Regions from separate parts of the Homo sapiens genome. Here regions 1, 3, 4 and 5 are each linked to region 2. The links come from fine-mapping of genetic effects on gene expression. A gene starts in region 2. Each other region holds a variant in brackets. All regions are shown on one strand. Distances are from middle to middle. Region 1 overlaps RIC1 (RIC1 partner of RAB6A GEF complex). Region 2 holds the start of RIC1 (RIC1 partner of RAB6A GEF complex). Region 3 holds the start of MLANA (melan-A). Region 4 overlaps ERMP1 (endoplasmic reticulum metallopeptidase 1). Region 5 overlaps RIC1 (RIC1 partner of RAB6A GEF complex).

Evidence for each region. PIP is the estimated chance that this variant, and not a neighbour inherited with it, causes the effect.
Region 1: its variant is fine-mapped to the expression of RIC1 in whole blood (INTERVAL, PIP 0.92).
Region 3: its variant is fine-mapped to the expression of RIC1 in whole blood (TOPMed, PIP 0.97).
Region 4: its variant is fine-mapped to the expression of RIC1 in prefrontal cortex (CommonMind, PIP 0.95).
Region 5: its variant is fine-mapped to the expression of RIC1 in tibial nerve (GTEx, PIP 0.96).

Annotation. Positions count from the first base shown.
Region 1 is chr9:5,669,717-5,674,823 of GRCh38, reverse strand. All of the region lies in intron 2 of RIC1 (RIC1 partner of RAB6A GEF complex), which reads right to left. Among named protein-coding and RNA genes, the nearest start is that of INCR1, 43 kb to the right of the region's middle. The variant G/A (reference allele first, on the strand shown) is at 3,115.
Region 2 is chr9:5,626,587-5,631,693 of GRCh38, reverse strand. It overlaps RIC1 (RIC1 partner of RAB6A GEF complex), which reads right to left and starts at 2,587. Exons shown (of 26, transcript NM_020829.4): 1 at 2,241-2,587. The coding sequence starts at 2,384. It overlaps INCR1 (interferon stimulated noncoding RNA 1), which reads left to right and starts at 1,967. Exons shown (of 3, transcript XR_007061406.1): 1 at 1,967-2,127. RefSeq lists enhancers at 1,767-2,267, 4,178-4,397 and a silencer at 2,288-2,827.
Region 3 is chr9:5,890,616-5,895,722 of GRCh38, reverse strand. It overlaps MLANA (melan-A), which reads right to left and starts at 4,834. Exons shown (of 5, transcript NM_005511.2): 1 at 4,787-4,834; 2 at 3,172-3,273. The coding sequence starts at 3,248. It also overlaps a transcript of BRD10 not described here. The variant T/C (reference allele first, on the strand shown) is at 2,864.
Region 4 is chr9:5,782,387-5,787,493 of GRCh38, reverse strand. It overlaps ERMP1 (endoplasmic reticulum metallopeptidase 1), which reads left to right. Exons shown (of 15, transcript NM_024896.3): 14 at 1-64; 15 at 186-2,922. The coding sequence ends at 350. Among named protein-coding and RNA genes, the nearest start is that of ERMP1, 48 kb to the left of the region's middle. The variant C/AC (reference allele first, on the strand shown) is at 2,783.
Region 5 is chr9:5,698,882-5,703,988 of GRCh38, reverse strand. All of the region lies in intron 3 of RIC1 (RIC1 partner of RAB6A GEF complex), which reads right to left. Among named protein-coding and RNA genes, the nearest start is that of INCR1, 72 kb to the right of the region's middle. The variant G/T (reference allele first, on the strand shown) is at 2,536.

The DNA.
Region 1 (5,107 bases), 43 kb before region 2:
TGTGCCTTTCTCCAAAGATGAATTTGAGGGCTTCAATCTTTAAAGGGGAAAAGTGGGCTGGAGGGGAGAGAAGGAGGGTATGGTAATCCACAAGTTCCAAGAGAAAAGAGCAGGTAGGGGAATAGTCAATTATGTATTCGTCTGGCATCATTAAACAGGCACTTTACATAAGATATGGTGAACATAAGTAGCTACTTGTGGAGTAGGTAACCTAACCTTTTATCTGTAGTTATCAGCTCAGGAACAAAAGGAAAGGCAGTTTCTTGCATGACTGGGCTTTCAGCTTATTTTTTCCCTTTTGGAGTGGTGAATTGGGGTCCTGAGTTTTTATTATCCTTTCACCACCGTCTTATTTCTAGAACTTTGTGGAGATGTTAAGATAAATATAATATTAGTCATAGTAATCTGGCTTATATTAAATATATTGAGTAAATGCTGACCTGCTTCTAGTAATTTAATTCATCCTTACTTGGGCTATTTAAAACATGAATTAACATTTTAGCTTATATGAATTTTAAAATTCATACAGGATCATAAATGAATTTTTGTTAAATTTTTTTTTTATGAATGACAAATTTCTCCATGTTCAATGAAGAAAACCCAAGAAACACAGAAAGTAACAAAAATAAACTGCCAATAGTTTCACCATTCACAGATAATCATTATCAATTTTTATGTAGTCCTTATGTCTTTTCCAGGGACATTTGCACAAACTCTTATATTTTACAGCATATTAGACTTCTGCTGAAGTCTGTTTTTAAATCCAAACTGATGATACTGTAAATGCCTGCTAATGTAACTGGTTATGACGAGCACAGTTGATAAATCTGTTAGTTTCTTAAGTAGAGGGTTATCTAAAATACAATTTTTTTCTTTATATAAAGCTATCATACAGTTTTATAATCTGCTTTTATGACATTATTTTATCACAAATGTTGTATAAACTTAACATTCTTCTGTAACTTGATTTTAAATGTCTGCATTGGATTCTAACTCAGAAATGAGTAAATTTTTAAACTGATAAATATATACAGGAACTTTTATCATTTTCACACAAAATTGGAATCTTAATTTACACATTACCATGCAATTTGATTTTTTTCACTTAGTGTTTTCTGACTGTTCTTCCACATTCATAGATACACTTACTACTATTTTTAGTATTTGTGTGATATTCCAAAGTATGGAAGTTTCTTATTTACTTTGCTATTCTTTTCTTGATGGACCTTTGGCAACTACAGACAATGCTGCAATCAACATTTATTTATATATATATATATATATATATCTCCTTATGTTTTGGTGCATATATATTTTGTGGGGTACCTTCCCTTAAGTAGGATTGCCAAGTCAAAGTGTATGTATGTACATTCATTTTAATATGTATTGCCAAATTTATCCAAAAAATTACATTAATTCCCAGTAACACTCTACTTGTTCCTAGAATTCCTGTTTATGCCTGCATTAGATTGGTGAAAAATGGTCTTATTTTAATTTCCATTTGTTTCCTTGCTAGTGATGCTTATCTTTTCATTTTTATTGGCTCTTCATACTTCTCCTTCTGCAAGTTGCCTTGTTCGTCCATTTTTCAATAGGATGGTCTTCCATAGGAAGTTTTTATTAATATGAATATTAATACAGATAATAATTGTCCCTAAGCATTGCATATACCTAACATGGATGGTATGGTCATCACGTTTCATTTTCTTGTCTAAACTTGTTTATCACCTATCTCTCACTAACCTAGGAATTAGTTACATGTCCACTTGCTTGTCCTGTTCACTGTAGCTCCAATACCAAGGCATTCCCTTATTAAACGAAATAAATTATCCGAACATACCGTTACTTAACCGAGATAAAGGACATCCTGTCTAGGTACAGGATTGTTAGAGATTCTTTTTTCATGGCTATGAGATGTTGTTCTAATGTTCCCTTAAGTTTCCAGGGTTAGTAGTGAGAAGTCTATTGTCAATGTGATTCTCTTTCCCTTTTCTCTGAATGATTTTTCTCATGACTGAAATTCAGTTATTTCTGCACATTATCTCTAGATATGTACGTTTTTTCATTAAACTTTTTCCACATAGCCCCACCCGCAATCAAATGTATCTAAGTCTCAGCCTTTTCAATCTGACAACCTTCAATGTTTCTAAACTAGGTAAGTTTCTTCTATTATTTCCTAAACTAATACTTGTTCTGTCTTGTTTTCTTTCTATAACACTCATTCCCAAACCTCTTGAATTTGCTCCTGCAGGTCTCTTATCTTTTCAAAAATAATTTTATTTCTATATGCCTTACATCATGAAATTGTTTCTATTTGATCTTCTGGAACAAAAGATTCAGCTCTCACAAGGGGTTATTTATCAGTTCATCTGTTGAATTTTTCTCTTAGGAAATTTTTAGCTCTGAAAAATCCTGATTATGTTCTAATTACATTTTCTGAAAGTTCTTAGTAATTTTTTTCTTAATTTACTACATTCTTCTGTCTCATCCCTGTGGCTCATCAATAGGAGCCACATATTTTACTTGTTTAGTTTGGTCTTACATCGTAAAGTTAATGAGCTCCCTTAGTGGTTTTTTTCTTTGCTGTGTTCCATTAGCCACCTGTAGAGGTTAGGCTTTGATGTGGGTATCTGGCAATGCAAACCTACAGATGCTGGATAAAGTGACAGTTTGCAGAGGCAGACAAGCTCACATACTGCTGAGCTGAGGCTTCAGCAGTCTCCTCTCAGGCACTGTCTCTGAGTAGAAGGGCCGGCTTCCTCAGACCATGAGGTGTGGCAGCAACTGAGTTCACCTGTGCAACCTCTACTCTAAGTCCGCAGCAGTTAACAGAGTTTTATGGGAAGCCCTGCTAATGTCCACTTCCAGGAGCAGACACAGTCCTCCCTTTTCTGAAGGGAAACCACAGGATTCCACTTTTTTAAGCTCACTTAGAGAACTGTGAAATCTCAGATCCTGTCTCAGTGCCTTAAGGAGTGGCAAAGCAAACCTTTCCCTCTGCCTGGTCCTTCAGCACCTATTCTTTCCCTAAAGAACTTGATATCTTGATGATTCTGACTTTAGGCTCATGTTTATACTCCTGAGAAGAGGAGAGGAGTTAGGAATGGGGGCTTA[G/A]TCCTTCTATCTTCTCAGAATTTAGAAATTAACTTAAACCATTTCTACTAGTTGTTCAAAGTTTTTGTAGCCTCTGCCTGCAAAACAGGTTCTTTTTTATTTTCATTTCTTTCATTATGATATAAAATAATACAGGCTGGGTGCAGTGACTCATGCCCATAATCCCAACACTTCGGGAGGCCGGGGCAGGCGGGTCACCTGAGGTCAGGAGTTAGAGACCAGCCTGGCCAACATGGCAAAACCCTGTCGCTACTAAGAATACAAAAATTAGTTGGGCCTGGTGGCGAGCACCTGTAATCCCAACTACTTGGGAGGGTAAGGCAGGGAGAACTGCTTGAACCTGGGAGGCGGAGGTTGCAGTGAGCAGAGATTGCGCTGCGCCACTCCACTCCAGTCTGGGTGACAGAGCAAGATGCCGTCTCAAAAAAAAAAAAATAATAATAATAATAATAAAATAAATAATACAGAGAGCCATCTCTGTATTATTTGGTAATAGTTTAGAAAGGTCACTGATATTTTTGTATCATCTGTTTAGCAAGACATTAGGAGGAGGAGAGGAGCCTGAATTCTGCTAAAGTGTAAATGTAAACAATTACCAGTCATTATTCCAGAGGTCACAAGATTTGCAACTTCCCCAATTACTCCTGCAGGTAACATCACTACTGTAGAACCTAAGATTGGCCTTTTCAGATACCTTCTCAGGTTTTTGCATTTCTGACGGCGGAGGGCTCCACGTGGACCCACCAACTGGTCCTGGTCCTGTGGTCCTACTCAGAAGTGGACTCGACATGAAGACCATTTTCCACACCTCTGACTGCCTCCCTAACCAATCAGCAGCACCCATTCCCTGCCCCACCAAACTATCCTTGAAAAACCCTAGCCTCCAAATATTGGGGAAGACTTATTTGAATAATAAAACTATGGCGCTTCTGTTCAGCCAGCTCTTCATGAATTAAACTTTCTCTATTGCAATTCCTCTGTCTTGATAAATCAATTGTATTCAGGCAGCAGGCAAAACGAAACTGTTGGGCAGTTACAATAGTTTTAATGGATATATCTGGGCTCATTCCATCTTTATATAATGCTTTGGATTTTATATATAAAAATGAAATGACTCAAAAAATCATAAAAGGAGTATTAAGGCAATTTTATATTACATGGTTAAGAATTCTACTGCACAGTAATATACAATAAGTAGGTCATGGCAGACCAACTCTCCCAACAGCTAGAAAAAGGCAGAAAACATAAAAAATTATATTTTTAAAGGCATCAGGCAAGCTATGGAATCAATAAGGCCTAGACTGATTAAAATTCATAGTAGGAGGGCTGTTCAGAAGTAAGCTGATTTTTTTTCCCCTAAGAGCATTCACCAATTCTGGGCACAGGCTAAGAAAGCAGCAGACTTAGTTCAGGCAGACGCCTGCTGGAGCAAAGAAAAATCAGCAAAGCTCTTGGCAGTTACATAGGGTTGAAGAAATAATCAGACTTGAAATGCCTCAACTCCACAGCCAATTTTTCCCACAAGACATCTGCTGAACTTAGAAGCTGCAGAAGGGGCTCAAGGGCTCGAAAGCAAACTTCATACAGGCAAAGTAAAATTTCCTGTATTTGTGAGATGCACAGGTATCCATACTAACTGGAGACCTGATGTGCCTCAAACACATAACCAGTGACAAAGATTCTGTGCTTAGTCAAACTTTAGTCAGGCTCCTGAACCTTCTTCTCTTAGGTCCATCTGTGCATTTCCTTATAAAATCCAGTTTAGCAAGACCCCCACACTTGATATCTGATTAGGTGGCTCATCCTCCAATCTCCCCTAAGTGATGTCTGATCACCCTGGTCTGTCTTCAGCAAGAATCCTGTTGTTTTAGCCAGAATCCCCATTACCCCTGATGTTTCCTCTTATTAATTTTCTATCCATTGACTCCCACACTGCTCCTTGGCTATAAATTCCCACTTGCCCATGCTGAAGAAGTGAGCCCAATCTCTCTTT
Region 2 (5,107 bases):
TTTTTTTTGAGACAGAGTCTTGCTCTGTCGCCAGGCTGGAGTGCAGTGGTGGGATCTTGGCTCACTGCAACCTCTGCCTCTTGGGTTCAAGCGATTCTCCTGCCTCAGCCTCCCGAGTAGCTGGGGCTATAGGCGTGCACCACCACGCCCAGCTATTTTTTTGTATTTTTAGTAGAGACGGGATTTCACCATGTTGGCCAGGATGGTCTCGATCTCTTGACCTCGTGAATATCTGATTTTTTTCAGTGACAACAAAGCTGGTGCCCAGAGACCAAGGTTAACCACTCATACTACAGTACTATACAGCCTCCTCTAAGGTATTCCTGCATTTCATTTCACTCCAGACCTCTAAACCCATGGGTTCCCTACAGCCTAACTTTTGCACAACAGAACTTAATAGTAGGGGTCCCTGGACTTCTGTGGAAAAAGGAAGTTGCATGTGAGGTGGGAATTTGAAAGAAGAGTATGAATAGTTTAAATTCCAGAACTGCCTTGGATTTCTAGATGTCGTATGTAACTCCAAAACCAAACAATAGACATGCTTAAGAATATTCACAATGTCCCTAAATTAAAGCATATGTTTATGCTTCTCTTATGGGGGAATAAAGTGGTTTACAGGCTTCTGGTCAATTCATAGGTCATATTGTTTACTTTTATTTAAAATTAAGTTAGGTCTGCCTTTTTAAAGGTAAGAAAAGTTAAATTTTAGACGAAAGTCTAAATTTGTTACATTCAAAAGGAATTATGTATTAAATTCAAAAGACAATTTAAATTCAAGTTCTATTTTTTTCTGCATGTGCTTTAAAGTTGAGTTATATACACCTAAACAAATTAAAAATTATTCAACTGGCATATACATTGTAAACGAATATCTCATTTAGGAACCAGATGATACTTTATATATATTTACACATATGTTTATATATATACACACACACATACATACATATATATTCAAAATACAATCAGGCACTAGACAAAATAGTCATATTGTTGGTATTACGATTTTATAAGTTTGTTTTGTTCTGATTTGCATTTGAAAATTAGATCAGCCAAAACTTGATGGCAAATAGTCTGATTTACAGCCCAACTATGACAGTCAAAGGAGACACCAGAATTACCCGTCACTAAATCCCATCACCAGTATTACCAGGGAAGTGGGTGAGGACTGTCAAGGGCATTACAGGTAATGGAACAGCAACACACAAAGATTTGGGGATTTTAACAAACTAAAACCAGTATTTCACGAACACCTAATAAGGACAAGATCACAACCTATCCCCACATGGTCAAATTAACTTGGAAAGGAGAAAAACTTCACTCTGACATCGATTGGTACTGCCTTCTTTGGGGAGGAAAAAAAGCATTTTTATACTCTGAACTCTGTCGTTCTCATAGACAAAGTTATAGCAGTGTTTGCAGAGAGTAGGGAGTATCCCATCCACCACTTATTTCTTTCTCATATCTACTCAGTAATTCAATACAAGAAAGAAAAAGATAACCAGGACTTAAAGCAAAAACAGAATTCAGTTCCATGCTCCTCCCAAGCCTTATTATTTCCAGGTGTTATAACTGGGAGTTCCGCGGACAGATTTGAGTTCTACTTCCGCTCCTTTAACCCCCTATTCCGAAGAGTCCAAGAGCAGCAGCAAAGAAAAAGACCAACTCGAAAGTGGGGAAGGGATGTTGGGGTTAAAGAGGGGAGTTAAATAACCAGACCTTTAGTGAAGAATAAAGAATTCAGGCTGTAGTTTGTAGAAATAAGTTATTACAGGCCTGTAAAGTCTGGCGCTGGGTAAAGCCCAAGAGGCTTTCCCTAACTCCAAAACGGCGACCTTTAAAGTAAGGGAGGGTTGGGGCACCACAGCGGCCGGATTTCTAATTGTGGAAAGTTTAAACAAATTTGTCCCTCGGGGAATGGGGGAAGGGAGAGAAGAACAAGTCTGGGCTCGGCCGGGGAGCGTGCGGAGTCTGCACGCCGCGGCCGTCGGTCCAACGCGGGGAGGCTCAGGGATTTTCGGCAGCAGCGACTTCATCCACCCCGGACCGCCGGCTGGAGGACGTGCCTGCAGCCGGCGGGTACCTGCGGCCAATTCGGTGGAACGAGGACGCGGACTGCGAAGGCAGGTGGGTCTGGCACGAAGGGGCAGGAGTCCTAGGCTCTGGGTGGAAGTTGGGGGTGGGACGGCGCCGGGAGGCCGGGGAGGCAGCGGCGAAAGGCGGCGGGCGGCTCTACTTACTCGGCTGTACCAGATGCTGAGGCGGGCCGCGGCCAGCACGGCGAAGAAAGCCCTCTGCGGGTCGGACTGAACGTGGAAAGGCGCCTCGGCCGGGCTCCCCAGAGGGCACAGCAGCCTCTTGGGCCAGCCGCTCAGAAAATACATGGTCCGTGCGGAGCCCCCGGCGCCCCCAGTTGCGTCCGTCACACTCAGCGGCCCCGGGCTGGTCGCCCACCTCCCACACCGCCACCGGCCGAGTCGGCGGCGGCGGCGGCGGCAGCTCGGGGCATCTGCCCGCTGGCCTGGCCGGGCCGGGCCGACGCAAGGCTGCGCGACGAAGGCACCCCCAAGCTGACGGGGCCGAGTGTGGGGGAGGGAAGGGGAGGGAGAGTAGGGACACAGAGAGGGCGGGAGGAGCGCGGAGGCCCGCCCCGACCCCGCCCCTTCCTCAGGCCGCGCGGGCGTCACCACGCCGCGCCGCGTGGGTCGGGCCGGGGAGGGCCCGCGCGCGCGCTCTGGAGACTCCTGCGGTCTCCCTAGCTGTTTCTTGAAGCTCTGCATAAGCCTCGCCCGCGGCCGCCGGGTTGCGTCCGCACTTCTGCGCGCTGGCCCCTCCCTTGCTCCTCTCCCTAGCAGTCTCCAGGGTTTTACCGGGAGGACCTAGGCAACGGCCTGAGACTCCGAGGCAAGTGGGGCGAGTCTAGGGATAACGCAGCAGCAAGGCTACTGGGCCGGTGGAACACGCCCTGGCCTGGCCAAATTGGACCTCCCTTCCGGATTGGCGGGGTCTCGGTGGGGGCGGGCCGGTTGCCGGGGGGAGCTGGAGTCACGTGACGGCCGGCGCGGTTTCCCACTTTGGGCTGCCGGCCGCTGTGGCTGTGGTGGGCGGTAGGGGCTTTTACCGTGTGAGCTCCTTTAATGCCGGGGTCTGCAGTGAGAGCTGGTGATGAAGCTCCTGCCGGTGTGGAGCTTACATCCCTAAGGGAGCGTTTATTTAATCAGTAAATAAACCACTCACCATGAAAGTATTGAGTTCTGTCTCCTGCCTTTCAGGAGTTCTAAATCTATGTCTTTGAAATCCATTTCCATTCGTCTCAGCCTTACCAGCCATAACTTTAGATGAGAGGAGGCTATCTCTTTCGTGCTGCAAAAGGCTTGGACTTAGTTTTAGAACTGGAAGGGACTGGTGATAGCGTAGGTCCATATTTAGCTTTTGGACCCCAGGTATCACCTTAGCTGTAACTTTCAACGGATTGACCCAGTGGTAACGTCTGAATAGAAGGAGGGTTGAGGGGATATGGTGTGGAATGGGGGAAGGAGGAGTCTGAAATAGAAGAAAGATTTGCTTCTCATTGTCTACCTTTTTTAGTACAGTTTGAATTTTTCCATATGTTTGTATTACTTTTTCAATTAAAAAGCCAGGTTTAAAAAATGACCCCACATTAAAAAGTAGCAACGTAGGCGGGGTGCTGGGGCTCACGCCTGTAATCCCAGCATTTTGGGAGGCCGAGGCGGGCAGATCACTTTAGGTAAGCAGTTCGAGACCAGCCTGGCCAACATCGTGAAACCCCCGTCTTACTGAAAATACAAAAATTAGCTGGGCGTGGTGGCAGGTGCCTGTAATCCCAGTTCCTCAGGAGGCTAAGGCAGGAGAATCGCTTGAACCTGGGAGGCGGAAGTTGCAGCAAACCAAGATCCCTCCACTGCACTCCAGCCTGGGCAACAGAGTGAGACTGTCTCAAAAAAAAAAAAAAAAGTAGCAACATAAACAGAAAAAAGGAAACAAAGAAACTTAATTCATATTAGATATAGCATTGTAGCTGGTATTCATAACCAAATATGTAACTTTCTGTAATTTTTCTAAACATTCACTGCATTCCCTGGAAGGTGATGATAGAATCCTGTATTCCTCAAATGGAGGTTGAAACTGCCTCACCACTCACCAGCCTGTTGCGATCAGATTGTCTCCTTGGCGTCTACCCTCCCCCAGTCCAACACAGCAGCCTGGAACATAGTAAGCATAGTAAGCTGGCAGTATTTGTCAGACAAACCGTGGAGGAAACCCTGATCCAGCTGAGCTACACCATTAGACAAAGAGGCCCAGAGAGGTTTCTTAACTTGCCAATTTCAAATTGTAGAATAACAAAGTTGCATCATACTTTCATCTTAGATTCAGTTATGCACTTGGCAGAAAGAGGAAATGAAAATGTTCTAGTGCAGCAATTTTGCTGGCAGTGTTACTGAATGTTTGTCCCAGCTGTCTCTCAGAGAGTCTTTGTTCTCATGTGTCTCAAGTTTGTCATACTGTGCTCATGGGCAATTTAAGGAACTTCTAAGCAATTTTTATTGCACTCAATTTTAACCTTACTTGCTGACTTTAGAAGCTTATTCCTCTGCCACACTCCTGTGTAGCACTTAAGATTCACAAAATAATTCCAAATGCTTGTCTTGATTTAATTCATAGTAAACATTCAAGGTGAGTGACATTGGTGTGATGTTGTTATTCTCACTTTCTCAAGTGAGGAAACAGGACAGGTGTGGTAGATGTGCCTGAATTCACATGGCCTGAAAAGAACTGATGTTCTTTCTACAGATCCAGTGTGATTTCTTTCTTTTTTTTTTTTTTTGAGGTGGAGTTTCGCTCTTGTTGCCCAGGCTGGCGTGCAATGGTGCCATCTCAGCTCACTGCAGCCTCCACCTCCTGGGTTCAAGCAATTCTCCTGCCTCAGCCTCTGGAGTAGTTGGGATTACAGGCATGCACCAACATGCCTGGCTAATTTTGTATTTTTAGTAGAGACGAGGTTTCTCCATGTTGGTCAGGCTGATCTGGAACTCCCGACCTCAGGTGATCCGCTCACCTCGGCCTCCCAAAGTGCTGGGATTACAGG
Region 3 (5,107 bases), 260 kb before region 2:
GATCATAGGACTCCACCCCTGGCCTACCCAATCAGCCTCTTAGGTGGCAGCACCTAGAAATCTGCATTTTAACAAGTTCCATGGATGACTTGTGTCCACCCAACTGTGAGAACTGCTCTCCACTGAGGTTTCAAAGAGATACATAATACCCAAAGCAGGTATGTAGTCCTTCTTGGCTGGATGTGGGAACTTATTTTGCATCATTCTTCTTCATTCCACCTGCTGGCACAATTGTGAGAAGGATAAATATTCTCAGATCTTAGGGATGCATTGTTTTAATGAAGATTGCCCCATTGTGCAGGATCTGGATTTTATGCAAAAAAATTAAAAAAAAAAAAAGAAGATGGCCCCATTCCCCTACCTCCATCCCACCTATTTAAACAAACAGCAATGGGGGCAGGGACTTTTCATGAGAGGAATGACTTTTGACATTGGTGGCCATGTGCAGTTACTTATTTTCTGGACCGATCTCCTTCAGTACCTGCACAAGATGATGATGTTCCATGTATTCAGGGGTTCCTACACTCACAGACTGAAGTTAAGTGTTTCATTGTGCTGGAAGCTTTGGCCATCTGACCCTTCTACAGACAGCAAAATGTCAAAAGGAATTACTTTCTCTTTAAAGGATAGCTCCCACGCATACGGGTTGAGTGGGTATTTTTCTTTTGTGCTGGAATCCAGAGGCTCCCTCTTGTTCTCAAGGAAAATGTCAGATAACCCACCTGACCCTGCTTATGCACGTCATTCAGGTTGCAAGACACAGAAAGCTTGTGCCTTCAGTCAAGGGGTTCCTTCACATGATAGTGGTCATAACCCCCTTTGCCCTTTATTAAGCCATTGTCCCTCAACTCCAAACCTACCTTTCTATGCTCTGCTCTGTGATGCTGGGACTGGACTCTGCAAATGCCACTTCTCCTTTGCCCACTGGCTCCCATTAGAGTACTCTAGAGGGTGCCTACAAACCTGGGGCATCAAGAAGGAGCAGCTCCTTCCAGTGTGCTTCTGGCTCCTGTCAGGATCACCCCAGCAATGCTCACATTGTCTGTATATGCCAAGCACCAGCTCGTTTTCCGGCATTGTCAGAGCCAGCTTCATTATGCCCCTCCCCAGCAGAGCACTGGCTGACCTCAGAGGCCTGAGTATTTGATTCATGCCCCTCACTTCTAAGCTCTTGAGACACCAGAACCAGCCAAACAAAAATCTCTCCTTAGAGATCTGGGTCCCATTTCTGTGGCGTCCCTCCTCCCAACTCTAGGTCCTGATGGCCTCACCCTTCCGTTTGTTACCCCAGACACGGGGGTAGAAGCAGCATTCTGTGGGTACAGCCTTGGTTGCCCCGATGCCTTCTTTGCCTCCTCAGTCTCAGTCCCATGCCTGTTTAACCAGCTTCTTATATTAAAGTCTCTATGTTGAACCATCTAGTTGGTTTCTTCCTGACTAGACCCTGAAAGTTACCTTGTTCAGGTTGTGGGTACACCTGGCTATGAGGTTCCCCAGCTGGGCATGATGGCCCTACATGGCAAAGGACAACTCCACTTTCGGCCTACTGAGCTGACTAGCATCAGCCTCCAGCTTCACACTGAGAGATACTGACCTCTGCCCTAGCCTCTCGTCGGATGGGATTGTGCAAATATTTGCCTCTGCTGGCCTGCAGCATAACACTTAAGAGCATGGACTCTGGAGGCAAACAGACCTGGATTTAAATCCCAGCGCCACCATGTCTGGCCACACATTTCCTAATTTCTCTAAACCTTTCTTCATTTACAACACAGCAAGAATGATACCCACCAGGGTGGGTGCCACGGGGCGGGGGGCGGGGGTGGAGCAATAAGCAGAAGTGACGTGTGCCCCTTGAAAGGAACGGTCCTAGCCTCTCCTTCACCTCCTGCTTTCTGTTGGCAAGATGTGGAGGTGATGGCACAACATCTTCAGCCATGGGGACAAAAGTGACATCCCAAGGGAGTAACCAGCAAGAAGAAAACGAACAGGCCTTGAACTCTTTACTCTTGAATTTTTACACGAGACATAAAAGTATATTTTAAAGAGTCTGTTGAGTGATTATACACAAGCTGAAACGATACCCTAACTAATAGCACGGGCAATGGGCTCCCCTCCCTCAAAGAGTATGTTTTTGCTGTCAGGACATTTTCTGAGAAGATACCGCCGCCCTCATCTCCAATTGGCCAGGGATATTAGAGGATCCTATACCAGGGTCTTCTGAGGAAATGCTGTCTGCCTGAACTCTTCCTCAGTGCCTTTGTTGGGCTTTACATCTTGCTGGTCCCTGCGGTTGACTGTTAACAAAGATTGTTCAACAGCTCTTTCCAAAGAAAGAGCAGGTTCACAGGGAGTTCTGGACAGACCACATAAGAGGGTGTTGTCCTGTTAGAGTCCCACGCAGAGGGTGGGGCCTCCCCTGCCCCTGCCACCCAGCACGTACAGAGTATGTCCCTTTCCCACTCCCAGCACATACAGAGTATGTCCCTGCAGCCTCTGGGTTTTCATTACCGCACTTACATTTGCTGAAATTAATCTCATGCCTAACTCTCCCACTAAGTTGTGAGTTTTTTCAAAGATAAAAACAGTGTCTCACGCCAGTATACAATGCTTAGCATTTAGAAATGCTTAATCATATAAATACTTATTTTTAATTCACTCATAAAACCCAATGTCTTTCCTTAGGATAAAGTTATACTGCAAAGGCTGTGACCTCCATCTTCCTCTCGAGTCTGGCTGTGGGCTGAGTCACACACACCTGCCCGTCATCCTTACTGGCTCCTTGGCAACTCACTTTTATTCTGTCTGCAAACCACCTTCAGGAATTTGAGTGGAGGAGACAGAACAAGGATTGAGGAGAGAGGCA[T/C]TGTGATCCTGAACAGATGTTTTTCCACTTGGGAACCTACAGATAAGACCCAATAGTCAAAAGTGCACCCAAAAATGGCAAGATCCAACCTTATACCATTCCCATCTTCCTGCCTGTTTGGCCTCAGAGAAGCTTGACTGAGCCCCTTATAGAAGCACAGAATCTCCTCCCCTTGTTGCCAGGGATGTTACTGTCTGGGGAGATAAACACTAGGGAGATTTACGAGCAGGCATGTACTGGTGGAAGTCAGCAGGCTGTGTCAGCAAACGGCAAACTGGAAGCCCTGCTGGGTCTGGTTTTGAACTTACTCTTCAGCCGTGGTGTAAGAGTGGCCGTGCCCCTTCTTGGGGTAACCATAGATGAAGTGAGCATCTTCTCTTGGCATCTTGTAGGGTCAGGGCACAGGACACCTAACAGAAGGAGCATGTGGGCATCATTAATGCATCCAAAGCCACCCTATTCATCATCTCATAAAGACCCACAACAGCATCCTCACTAGGTGACCAATATCCATAGCCAGGACCCTTTGGTTTCTCTCTGTGAGGGGATTTGCACCTGCTTCTTTCATTCATATCAAGGGCTTTAGCAATAGCTCAGGTTTCTAACCCCTCCTACTAACTGAAAATTAAGTTCAAAGAAGAAACTACAAACAAAAGCAAAAAAGACTTGCAAGTTGAGTTATTATTTGGTGAAAAAATATTCCTCATTTGCCTTCAATTTGACTCTGCACCATAAACTTCTAGAGAAACAAACAAAATGCATTTTCACTGATTCTCCACCTTCCCTGGCCCAGGGCTGTGGCTAACAAAATTAGAGGAGTTATTTTTCTCCAAAGTTATTGTTGGATATCAATCCCACAGACAAACAGAGGCTATGATACATAACGTGTGTTTCCCAGAGCACCCGTTGCCTGTGCCTCGCGAGGGTGCATGAGGTTGAGCACTGAGCACAACATCTTCCAGCCCAGCTTTTCAGCAAAGGAAACCACCCCACACAGGGGCTTCAGCCTGTCCCCAGGCACTCCACCCAAAACAAGCCGAGGAAGCCCAGGACCTGACTTTATCTAACAATGTGTTTCCCTTCCTACTTAAGTCAATTTCTGCTTCTCTCTGGTTCAAGTCCCTTGGCTAGGATTCTTTTTTTTTCTAACTATAACACATACAAATGAACAACAAAAAATATCCATAAACTGCAGTGGCCGTAATTCAAGTACGCTCATTAAAAACCAATAATGGAAGCTCCTTTCCTTATTATTGTGTATTTTTCTGCTCTCTTACTGTCCTCATGAATTTCAAAGGTGTGATCCCCATAGAATTATATTAATGAGCCCCAGTTTAAAACAACAGGGAGAGGTGAGACAGAAGAGTGGGGATTTCGACACATGACCCCTTTCCACTGGGACATTTTATGTGTAATTTGCCCTTCCCAGTTGTAAAAAAGAAATGAAAGTCAAACTCACCAGTCCTCTCAAGTGAATAATATAGGACTGAACCCTGTGTTCAAAATGACAGAATGGAATCTTAATTCTTCATTAAATTGTTTTAATACATCCCATACCTCAAACTCAGAGCCTTGGCAAATGGTGCAGCAACAGCAAATGCGCCTCTTACTACTCAGACCAGGAGAAGTGGTTCTTTAAGTGACAGGAGAACACATCTACCTCAGGGAGGCTGCTTCTCCCCAGCAAGATGCCATCCTGAATAATTGCTTTTCTTCTTGGTAGTGTTGGAGGACTGAGAGAGGATTCAGGAGGAGGCTTTGTGAGCCCTCTGAGGTTGGAGACTGACAAACGTTGCGGAGAAATTCTGTTGATGTCACACATCAGCGGGGCAATGAGGGTAGGCAGAGGACTTAGCCAGAATTTCCCAAATCCTATTCTGGGAGAAGAGGACTATGATTATGGCGAGAAGGCAACGCTCTTACCTTCCTTAATGAGAGTCCTCTGTCTGCTGGCTGGCCGCGTGTATGAAGACTGCTTCTCTGGCTCTTAATCGTTTTGACTTATTTTTTTTCCTGGTTTTGAGTCCCATGATAGTCACGGGTTTAGATTTCTGACGGGGTCGTCTGTAATTGCTAAATTGGCATGAAAGAAACCAACTTTATTCCTTCCTTCAAAAAGTCACAGCTGACTGTGGCCTCTGTTTTCCCCAGTCCCAGTGCTCTATCCTAGGGAAGCCATTTATTTTAAATGTTGGTCCCTCCTCCATAGGATTGCCATGTCACATAAAATATGACATGAGCCTA
Region 4 (5,107 bases), 160 kb before region 2:
CTACTTTGTCTTTTACTCCCATGGACTCCAGGCCTCTGCATGGCAGTTCTGGATAGAAGTGCAGGTGCCAATTTCCCAGCATTGTTTGTTTCATTGATTAGGTTCCCAGGTGGTATTTAGCAAGAACCTTGGGTTCAGTATTCTGGCTTCTGAGAACTGGAGAACTAATTGATTTTCTCTGGCAGGTTTCAGAAGAACATCCTGAAGGAATGGTCACCGTGGCCATTGCTGCCCACTATCTGTCTGGGGAAGACAAGAGATCCCCTCAACTGGATGCTCTGAAGGAAAAGTTCCCAGATTGGACATTTCCCTCTGCCTGGGTGTGCACCTACGATCTCTTTGTATTTTAATCTTGTGGATGAGCTCTAAGTACATGCCCAGTGGATACTCCATGTGACATGGTTTCTCCCTATGTTACGTGGATGTTTGTAACGTAAGTCAATGAATTTTAATGATCATATGTTCAAAGAGCTTTCTGGGTTAACGCTTTTCAGGGCCAAGCACTATAAGGGTTTAGCTGTGGCGCAGTGATGCATGGCCTGTTGACACTTGAAAATGCCAGTCTTTTGGCACTTCAGCACATGTGGGTACTGCCACTACACACACGTCATTTTATATGACCTTAAGGACAAAGCCAACAATCCACTTCAATAGCTGCCCCTTTAGGATCAAGAAAGATGTACACTGTCAGAGCATTGTTAATGAGACAAAAGTTGTTTCCAATTTAAGCCCCAAAACCATTTGTTGTATTAGTGGATGGTGGGTAAAATATCATTCACTGAGGTAATGATTCCCCTTGAGAATATAACTCTGTGTAGGTCACTGGAAAGTGATTGCCATAGGGCTGGGAGAGAAGCATTGCACTCTTGAGGCTGTAGCCTGTGTCAAGCTGTTTCTTCAGGCAGCCTCTCAAATGTGCTTTGTCTCTCTGTGCTGAGGCCTGGACCCTGTGCTGAGCTGGTGACTCACTGTCCTGACAAGTGGACACACAGATGCACTGCTGTGCTGCTTTCCTGAGGTGGTTTTCTATGCCTGTTTTCCTCTGAAACATGTCTGTTACCCCTCTCCATCTTACCAAGTTGAAAAGGGGAATATTTGGCCACATACCCCTCTGGTTTTCGTAGGTTCTTTTGGTTCAGAATATTGTTTGTGCCAGTACATGACCTTAACTTCCTTCCTCAGAGCACTGAGCTGCCATCTGGGCTATTCTGGGGTAGAAGGAAGGCTGGGAGTGGTGGGAATTTTATAAATATTTATTCTCTTTTCTTTGTTTCATAGGAGTCTTGTGTTATACAAGGTTAGTCCTTCATGGTATAATCTTACTGATGCACTGGGCCTATCTTTTTGTTTTCCAGCCAGTTGAATAGATTAGTTTTTCTCAGTAACTTACTATCCAGCAGACTGGCTTTCCTGAGACTTGAGGTTGTGGCTTATACTGGAATGAGACCACTGTACGTGTAGGTGGTTCAGATCCTGCGTAATGGCAGCATGAGGACTTAAAAGGTGGTTTTCATTTTGAAGATGGCTATGTAGCTTGTAAGGTGTATCACAGCAGTACCTCTCATGGCTTTTTGGTTCCAGCAGTGAGGGCATTGGTGAGATCAATGGTAAACTGTGCAAGCTTTCTTTTTATCATTAGGAAATGTGAAACGTTGGACAAATTTTGAGTTTTAACAAGGACAAAAAGTTGAAAGAAAAGGCACAGTTAACAAAAAAGGGTGGCTAGATTTATCTTGGGTGATGGAGGAAATGAGAGAGGAATGCTCTTGAAAGGTGGTCTGTGGATCTGTCTGAATAGAAAGAGCACAGTAAGTATGCATTGCCGGAGAAAACGTCCTTGAAGCTGCTTGTCTCATGTGTATGATGTGCTTTTTAAATCATGCCCCTCGTTGCCTGCCTAATCTGTGACTCCCTAAAAACTAACTGGGCCCATGTAGATGGGGCTGCAACCAGAGCTGAATAACATGTTAGGCTCACACATGCATCAGCACTGCACACTGGAATCATTGCTCTTCCTGGACTTTGTAGAAATCAGTCTCAAGTGCTTCAAGAGTCTGGCTCCTGCTACTTTTATCTGTCAGGTAGCACATAAGGTTTGCAGGGTTTATATTTTGTATAGAATCACAGTTGTGGAGAAAAAGTAATAATTTCTCAATGAATTTTAAAAATGGGCCTATTTTCTATCCCCGTGGTTCATCTGATATAATTAGTGTTCCCTGTGAATTCCCCCCCTCTATGGGAAGGATGCCTTTACTCTTTATCAGTAATAAATTATGACTGTTTTCATATTGCCTTAGGGTTATTTCCCTGTGTAAACCATTGTCTTTTGTTTTGGTTTTCTTTAGCATTATGAAGCTTTGGTATTGTACAAGGTCAGTAGTAAGATGCTCACTAGTCTCAGGGCTTGTGTAATATTCTGGGAGGTCATTTAAATGCCAGAAATGGTCAAGCAATTATACACAGTATTTATGACTCTGTTAAGCATACCGTTTGTCTGTCACATTAGTAGATTCTGAGATTAAAAAAAATTTTTAAAGAGTGATCATTTAAATAATTTCTAAAAGGGTCTTTTCAAGCTCTAACAAAGTCACTAACAAATGCATTATTTTCTACAGAATTAGATGTTAGTAGTACAGTACTGCATATTCAGGGAAAAAGTGTGAGGAATTGATTTCAAAATAGTTCGTTCTTGTGTTTGACCTAAGAATGATTGTCGCATGAAGTGTTTGTTTTTACAGTTTAGCATATATAAACAAACATGATAGGATTCCTTAAGATGTTA[C/AC]CACCCAGGGGGCCACAAGCCAGCCTGCTGTCTCAGGAAGCTGTAGAAGGAGTGTTTGTCAATTTCTTGTCACTGGTTTGCTGACTTACTGAGGATTAATTGTTGCCTTACAATGTTACTGAAATAAACTGTTTAATATACTGGTTGGTATCTTTTTAACTGAAAAACAGATCTGTGTTCTTCTGTATCCCCATATTTTCAAGGGTTATTCCATGTCCACAGAGCCTTTTAATTGCTGTTAAAAGACCTAGATGGCTCATGTGAGCAAAGAACTCAACATGGAAATGTTTACTTCAGTTAGAATCCTTTATCTTAGAATGAAATGGTACTTCTGAATTTCACAGAAATTATTAGGTAAATGTTGAGCTTCACCTATGTAGGAGTTTTAAATCATCCCCATTAGCAAAAAAATAGCAAAGGGTAAAGGGCGTTCTTTTATTTGGGAGTAAGGGTAGGAGGGAGGGAAGAAGTTGCCTTTCAGCCAGAGTGACTCATTGCTTATTCTAATCTCCACAGAAGGAAAGGGCACCACCACTCACCAAAATAGAGCATGAACTTTGAGTTCAGAGATCTCTGTGCAAGTTATTTAAACTTTGAGTGAATTCTCTCAGAACAGTTCAATGCAAGGTGAAGCAGCTGAACAACTTCTAACCTAATACTCCTCTTCTTCTTTTAGGGCCAATAAAGTCAAGATGCAGTTATGGCTATTTACATTTGTTTTTAGCCAAGATGCAGTTACGACTCTTTTTAAATTTTTTAAAATTATACTTTAAGTTCTGGGGTACATGTGTGGAATGTACAGGTTTGTTACATATGTATACATGTGCCATGGCAGTTTGCTGCACCCATCAACCTGTCATCTACATTAGGTATTTCTCCTAATGCTGTCCCTCCCCTAGCCCCCCACCCTCTGACAGGCTCTGGTGTGTGATGTTCCCCTCCCTGTGTCCATGTGTTCTCATTGTTCAACTCCCACTTATGAGTGAGAACATGCGGTGTTTGGCTTTCTGTTCTTGTGTTAGTTTGCTGAGAATGATGGCTTCCAGCTTCATCCATGTCCCTGCAAAGGACAGGAACTCAACCATTTTTAGGGCTGCATAGTATTCCATGGTGCATACGTGCCACATTTTCTTTATCCAGTCTATCATTGATGATGGGCATTTGGGTTGGTTCTGAGTCTTTGCTATCGTGAACAGTGCTGCAGTAAACATACATGTGCATGTGTCTTTATAGTGGAATGATTTATAGTCCTTTGGGTATATATCCAGTAATGGGATGGCTGGGTCAAATGATATTTCTAGTTCTAGATCCTTGAGGAATCGTCACACTGTCTTCCACAATGGTTGGACTAATTTACACTCCCACCAACAATGTAAAAGAGTTCCTATTTCTCCACATCCTCTTTAGCATCTGTTGTTTCCTGACTTTTTAATGATCGCCGTTCTAACTGGCGTGACATGGTATCTCATTGTAGTTTTGATTTGCATTTCTCTGACCAGTGGTGATGAGCTTATTTTTCATATGTTTGTTGGCTGCATAAATGTCTTCTTTTGAGAAGTGTCTGTTCATACCCTTTGCCCACTTTTTGATGTTTTTTTTTTTTCTTGTAAGTTTAAGTTCTTTGTAGATTCTGGTATTAGCCCTTTGTCAGATGGATAGATTGCAAAAATTTTCTCCCATTCTGTAGGTTGCCCGTTCACTCTGATGTTAGTTTCTTTTGCTGTGCGGAAGCTCTTTAATTAGATCCCATTTGTCTATTTTGGCTTCTGTTGCCATTGCTTTTGGTGTTTTAGTCATGAAGTCTTTGCCCATGCCTGTGTCCTGAATGGTATTGCCTAGGTTTTCTTCTAGGGTTTTTATGTCTTACGTTTAAGTCTTTAATCCATCTTGAGTTAATTTTTGTATAAGGTGTAAGGAAGGGATCCAGTGTCAGCTTTCTGCACATGGCTAGCTAGTTTTCCCAACACCATTTATTAAATAGGGAATCCCTTCCCCATTCTTTGTTTTTGTCAGGTTTGTCAAAGATCAGATGGTTGTAGATGTGTGGTATTATTTCTGAGGTCTCTGTTCTGTTTCACTGGTCTATATATCTTGTTTTGGTACCAGTACCATGCTGTTTTTGTTACTGTGGCCTTGTAGTATAGTTTGAAGTCAGTAGCGTGATGTCTCCAGCACTGTTCTTTTTGCTTAGGATTGTCTTGGCTATGTGGGCTCTTTTTTGGTTCCATATGAACTTTAAAGTAGTTATTCAATTCTGTGAAGAAAGTCAATGGTAGCTTGTTGGGGATAGCACTGAATTTGTAAATTACTTTGGGCAGTATGGCC
Region 5 (5,107 bases), 72 kb before region 2:
TGGCTTGTGGGAAAACAGTCTGGCAGTTTCTCAAAAAGTTAAACATAGAATTACCATGTAACCTAGCAATTCTACTTCCAGGTATATACCCAAAAATAATTGAAAACAGGTGTTCAAATACAAATTGTACATGAACAACTGCTATGAACACTCCTAGTCATAGCAGGACTGTTCCAATAGCCAAAAAGTGAAAACAACCTCAATGGCCATCACCTGATTCATGGATAAACACCCTGTGGTAAATCCATATAACAAAATATTATTCAGCCATAAAAGAAACGAAGTACTGATACATGCTAAAACACGAATTAACCTTGAAAACATTACATTAAGAAGACACAAAAGGTACATAGTGTGTGATTCCATTTATACAAAGTATCCAGCAATTAAATAAGACACAAAAGGTACATGCTGTATTATATTTATATAGTGTATCCAGAATAGGCAAATCCAGAGAGACACAGACAAGAAACAAATGTATGGTTCTAGGGGCTGAGAGCAGAAGAGAACAGGGAATGACTGCTTAATGAATCCATGGTTTCTGCCTGGAGTGATGTAAAAGTTCTGGAACTAGGTAATTGTGATAGTTGTACAAAACACTGTAAATGTACTTAATGCTATGTGAGACATGGAGTCAAAGGAGGTTATTTTGGAGCTTTAAGAATTAATGACTGCCCTACTGTGTTTCAGATCTGCACGGGGCTTATAGTCCCTTTCTTTTGGCTGATTCTTCCCTTTCGGAACGGGAGTATTAACCAATGTCTGTATTCCCATTGTATCTTGGAAGTTATTAACTTGTTTTTGATTTTACAGGCTCATAGGCAGAAGAGACTAGTTTTGTCTCAGATGAGACTTCGGACTTTTGAGTTAATGCTGGAATGGGTTCAGACTTTGGGGGACTCTTGTGAAGGCATGATTGTATTTTAAATGTGAGAAAGACATGAGATTTGGCAGGGGACAAGGGTGGAATTACATGGTTTGGGTCTCTGTCCCTACACAAATCTTATGTCAAATTGTAATCCCCAACGTTGGAGGTGGGGCCTGGTGGGAGGTGACTGGATCATGAGGGCAATTTCCCCTTTGGTGCTGTTCTTGTGATAGTAAGTTATCGTGAGATCTGGTTGTTTAAAAGTGTGTAGCTCAGTTGCATGCAGTGGCTCACGCCTGTAATCCTAGCACTTTGGGAGGCCAAGTCGGGCAGAATGCCTGAGCTCAGGAGTTCGAGACCAGCCTGGGCAACAGGGTGAAAGCCTGTCTCCACTAAAATACACACACAAAAAAAATTAGCCGGGCATGGCGGCGTGTGCCTGTAGTCCCAGCTACTCAGGAGGCTGAAGCAGGAGAATTGCTTCAACCCGGGAGGCGGAGGTTGCAGTGAGCCGAGATGGTGCCACTGCACTCCAGCCTGGCAACAGAGTGAGACTCTGTCTCAAACAAACAAACAAACAAAAACAAAAACAAAAACAAAAACAAAACAAAACAAAAAAAAAGTGTGTAAGTGTGTAGCACCTCTCCCCGGCTTCCTGCTCTGGCCGTGTAAGAGGTGCCTGCTTCCCCTTCTCCTTCTGTCATGACTGTAAGTTTCCTGAGGCCTCCCCAGCCATTCTTCCTGTATAGCCTGCGGAACTGTGAACCAATTAAACCTCTTTTCTTTATAAATTACCCAGTCTTAGGTGTTTATTTATGGCAGTGTGAGAATAGACTAATATACCTCATGACTCAGCTCAGATGCTACTCTCTTTACAAAGAATTCCTCAATAATACACTGAAAGTATATTCCCTTTCTAAACTGCCTCCCAAAGCTATTTATCTGTAGCTCCTTTAGAGTACACATCACTTTTACAGTATATTTGATATTATCTGAATTTAGCTTTTGTCCCCTTAATAAACTATGAGCTTCAGACTGGGAAAAAATCAACTCTAATTCACACCATTGCCTTGTATATAGCCCAAAACCAACAAATGTCTTAAATGAGTAAAGATGAGTGTCCCCTTGGAGGCCTTATTTCCTGAGTCTTAGCTATTCCAGGCAATTGATGATGTTTAATACGTGGATCCCTGCATAAGTGGGATGTATGCACGTATGTTTTTTGACATTTTGAGTGTATTAAATGTTAACAGTTACTCCTTTGCTTTTGATCCCAGTCATGTGCTTGAGAAACTAACCAGCTTCAATATTTTAATTATGATGGTTTTCTCACTAAAAGCAAAATTGTTTGGAAGAACAGATAATAGATTTGACATGCACTACCTACCATATTCATACTAATGTTATAGTACGAATTATACAGAGCAAAAGTTAAGTTAAACTATACAAGGTAAGGAAGATGGATAGAAAACAAAAACCTGAATTTTCAAGAGAAAATGTAACTGAACTTTTCTTTTTTTTTTTTTTTAAATGGAGTCTTGCTCTGTCACCCAGGCTGGAGTGCAGTGGTGCAATCTCGGCAAACTGCAATGTCCACCTCCCAGTTCAAGCAATTTGCTTCAGCCTCCTGAGTAGCCGGGATTACCACACCAGCTAATTTTTGTATT[G/T]TTAGTAGAGACGGGGGTTCTGCTATGTTGGTCAGGCTGGTCTTGAACTCCCGACCTCAAGTGATCCACCCGCCTTGGGCCTCCCAAAGTGCTGAGATTGCAGGCGTGAGCCACCTCACCCAGCCCAAACATTTATTTCTAAGCTACACTTTGCATTTAAATCGATATACTCCAAAGGATTCAATATAGATGCCCATAAAAAAGATAAATATCTCCATCAGGAGTGCTATGTACACATCCACTCATGAAAGAAAAAAAACATTCAGAGCTTTTCTATAGGTCTCAAACAGAAGAGCCAGCTATACCACAGTTTTACCACAAATGGGTGATAACAAGTTATTGTTTACTTGCACTAATGAAATAGAACCCAGCCAACTTAAGTCATAGTGATAGTTTTGATAAATTTTGAGAAGAAACATGAAGGGAAATTAAACACCAGACTTTGACCATACGATTCTGAGAAGAATCTGAACTAAAAGCTAGGTAAGCTAACTGGGGAAAAGAATGTGAAGAGTAGGGAAGCAGTAGGAAATTATACTTATTTGAAAAAAAATATTTATAACTTGCAGTTGTCTTTGTGAAACTACATGGAAAAGAAAAAATTTAATTATTTTCTAACTTTTATTAAGATTATTATTTGTGACTCCTCTAGTTCAAAGTTATAGGAAGTTTTAAGTGATCTGTTCCAACGATTTTCCCACAAGCTTTGTTTTTAGTGTGCACTTGTGCAGAATGAAGGTGTTTACACAATGCATATATCATGCTTTGGCAAAAATACCTGCTCATGAAATGGTACAAAGCTTGTTAGACAATTCAAGTATTTTAAGAAGAAACAAAATATATAATTTATTATATATTTATAAGGCATATTTATAAATATACATTAATATACGTAAGAGAATTTAATTTGTAAGATTCCCCTCTAAAAGTGTTGAAATTTGCTAGATTTACGAATAGATTTTTAAGATTTGTAGATGGAACTTAAAAGTTTGAGCTACAGTTATTATTTTGAAGCTCTAATAAATTGAATATTTTTAATCCAAAGTAAACTCTAAATAAATATTCAGATTTTTTACTTTGAAAACACAAAATCACAAATGAACAAAAAGAAATGAAACAGCTGAATACATTATGGGATAGGCAAAAGGGATTAATCCCATTATAATCCCCTCAATAATGTTCTAAATTTCTATCTATTTGAGATTAACTGGGGCTAACAAAAACAAACTAACAAAATTTATAGAACTAGCTAAGAAGTGTCGGTCATTCCCAGCTCAGTATTGGTTAATCAGGTGCTCTCCCTACAAGCCATGGCAGAATTTGTGAAGGAAAGAACAGAAATGTCAATGAAGGAAACTTGGTGGGGTTGGGTGGGGACAGCCCATGGAACGATGACCCTGAGAGACAAGAAACCAGTGAAAGGAAAAAAAAAAAAAAAAGTAGGAATTTTTTTCTTAATGCAGTTTCGGATCAATTGTGTGACAGTTTTCTTAATGCATTCAAAGTTGTTGTGGTTCTTAAAGCCAAGAGGTTTACACATCACTGACTATATAAAACTAATTCTGTAGACAATTTGTCTTATTTACAGATAGATAACTTTCAGATATGCTTTAAAGTTTAATCTTGGTAAACCACCACTAATTTTAATACTGTATATGAAATCCAATAATATAATTTAGTTTCAGAATCAGAGTGAACATACATCAGAAAGTGTTGTAAATCTCAGATTATTGCAAAAATCTAACATGTGAAAAATCCAACAATTACATTTTATTTACAAAAATTGATTTACATAGGATTTGTTAAAATCCAATTTATGAAACAGAACAAATCTAGAGACACTAGGTTGCCCTTACCACTTGTGTGGAATTTGTCTCTCTAGAAAGTTTTATAAAATGTTGCTTTTATATTTTAGTTATATATGCAATATACAAACAGTTTTTTGAAAAAAAAAAAAAGACATTGAAATAAATGTAAGCTATACATACATTTAAGAAAGATGAATAAAAACATTTACCCACTAATTCCAGTTCAGAATTGCAGGTGGCCACGGCCCATCCCAGCAGCTTGGGGCCAAAGCTGAAGCCCACCTTGGACCAGATGTCATTCCATTGGAGGGCGCACTCACACACATACCCCACACTCGCTCAGACTGGGGCCATGCAGATGCTGATTCACCCAAAGCGTACATCTTTGGGATGTGGGAGGAAACTACAGTACTACACAGACATAGGGAGAATATGAAAATTCCATATTGACAGTGGCCCTGGCCAGGGATCAATTTTTTTCCCTCATCGATGTTATGACATTATTCAAGGATATGATGTAAGGAGTTTCTCGCTATATTAAAGAAGCTATCTTTGTTAATACTTGGAATTTTCAAGTATTGTATAAATGAATACTCTGCCTAAGTTCCCCAGAGGAGTCAAGTCTGTTATTGCTTACATTTGATACATGACTCAATCTGAGACTTGCTTTTGAACAAGTACACCTGTATTTTTTGGCAACCTCTTAAAGTTTTGTCATTCTTCAAATTCTAGTTCACTCTAAAACCTCGCAGTTAATGAACTAG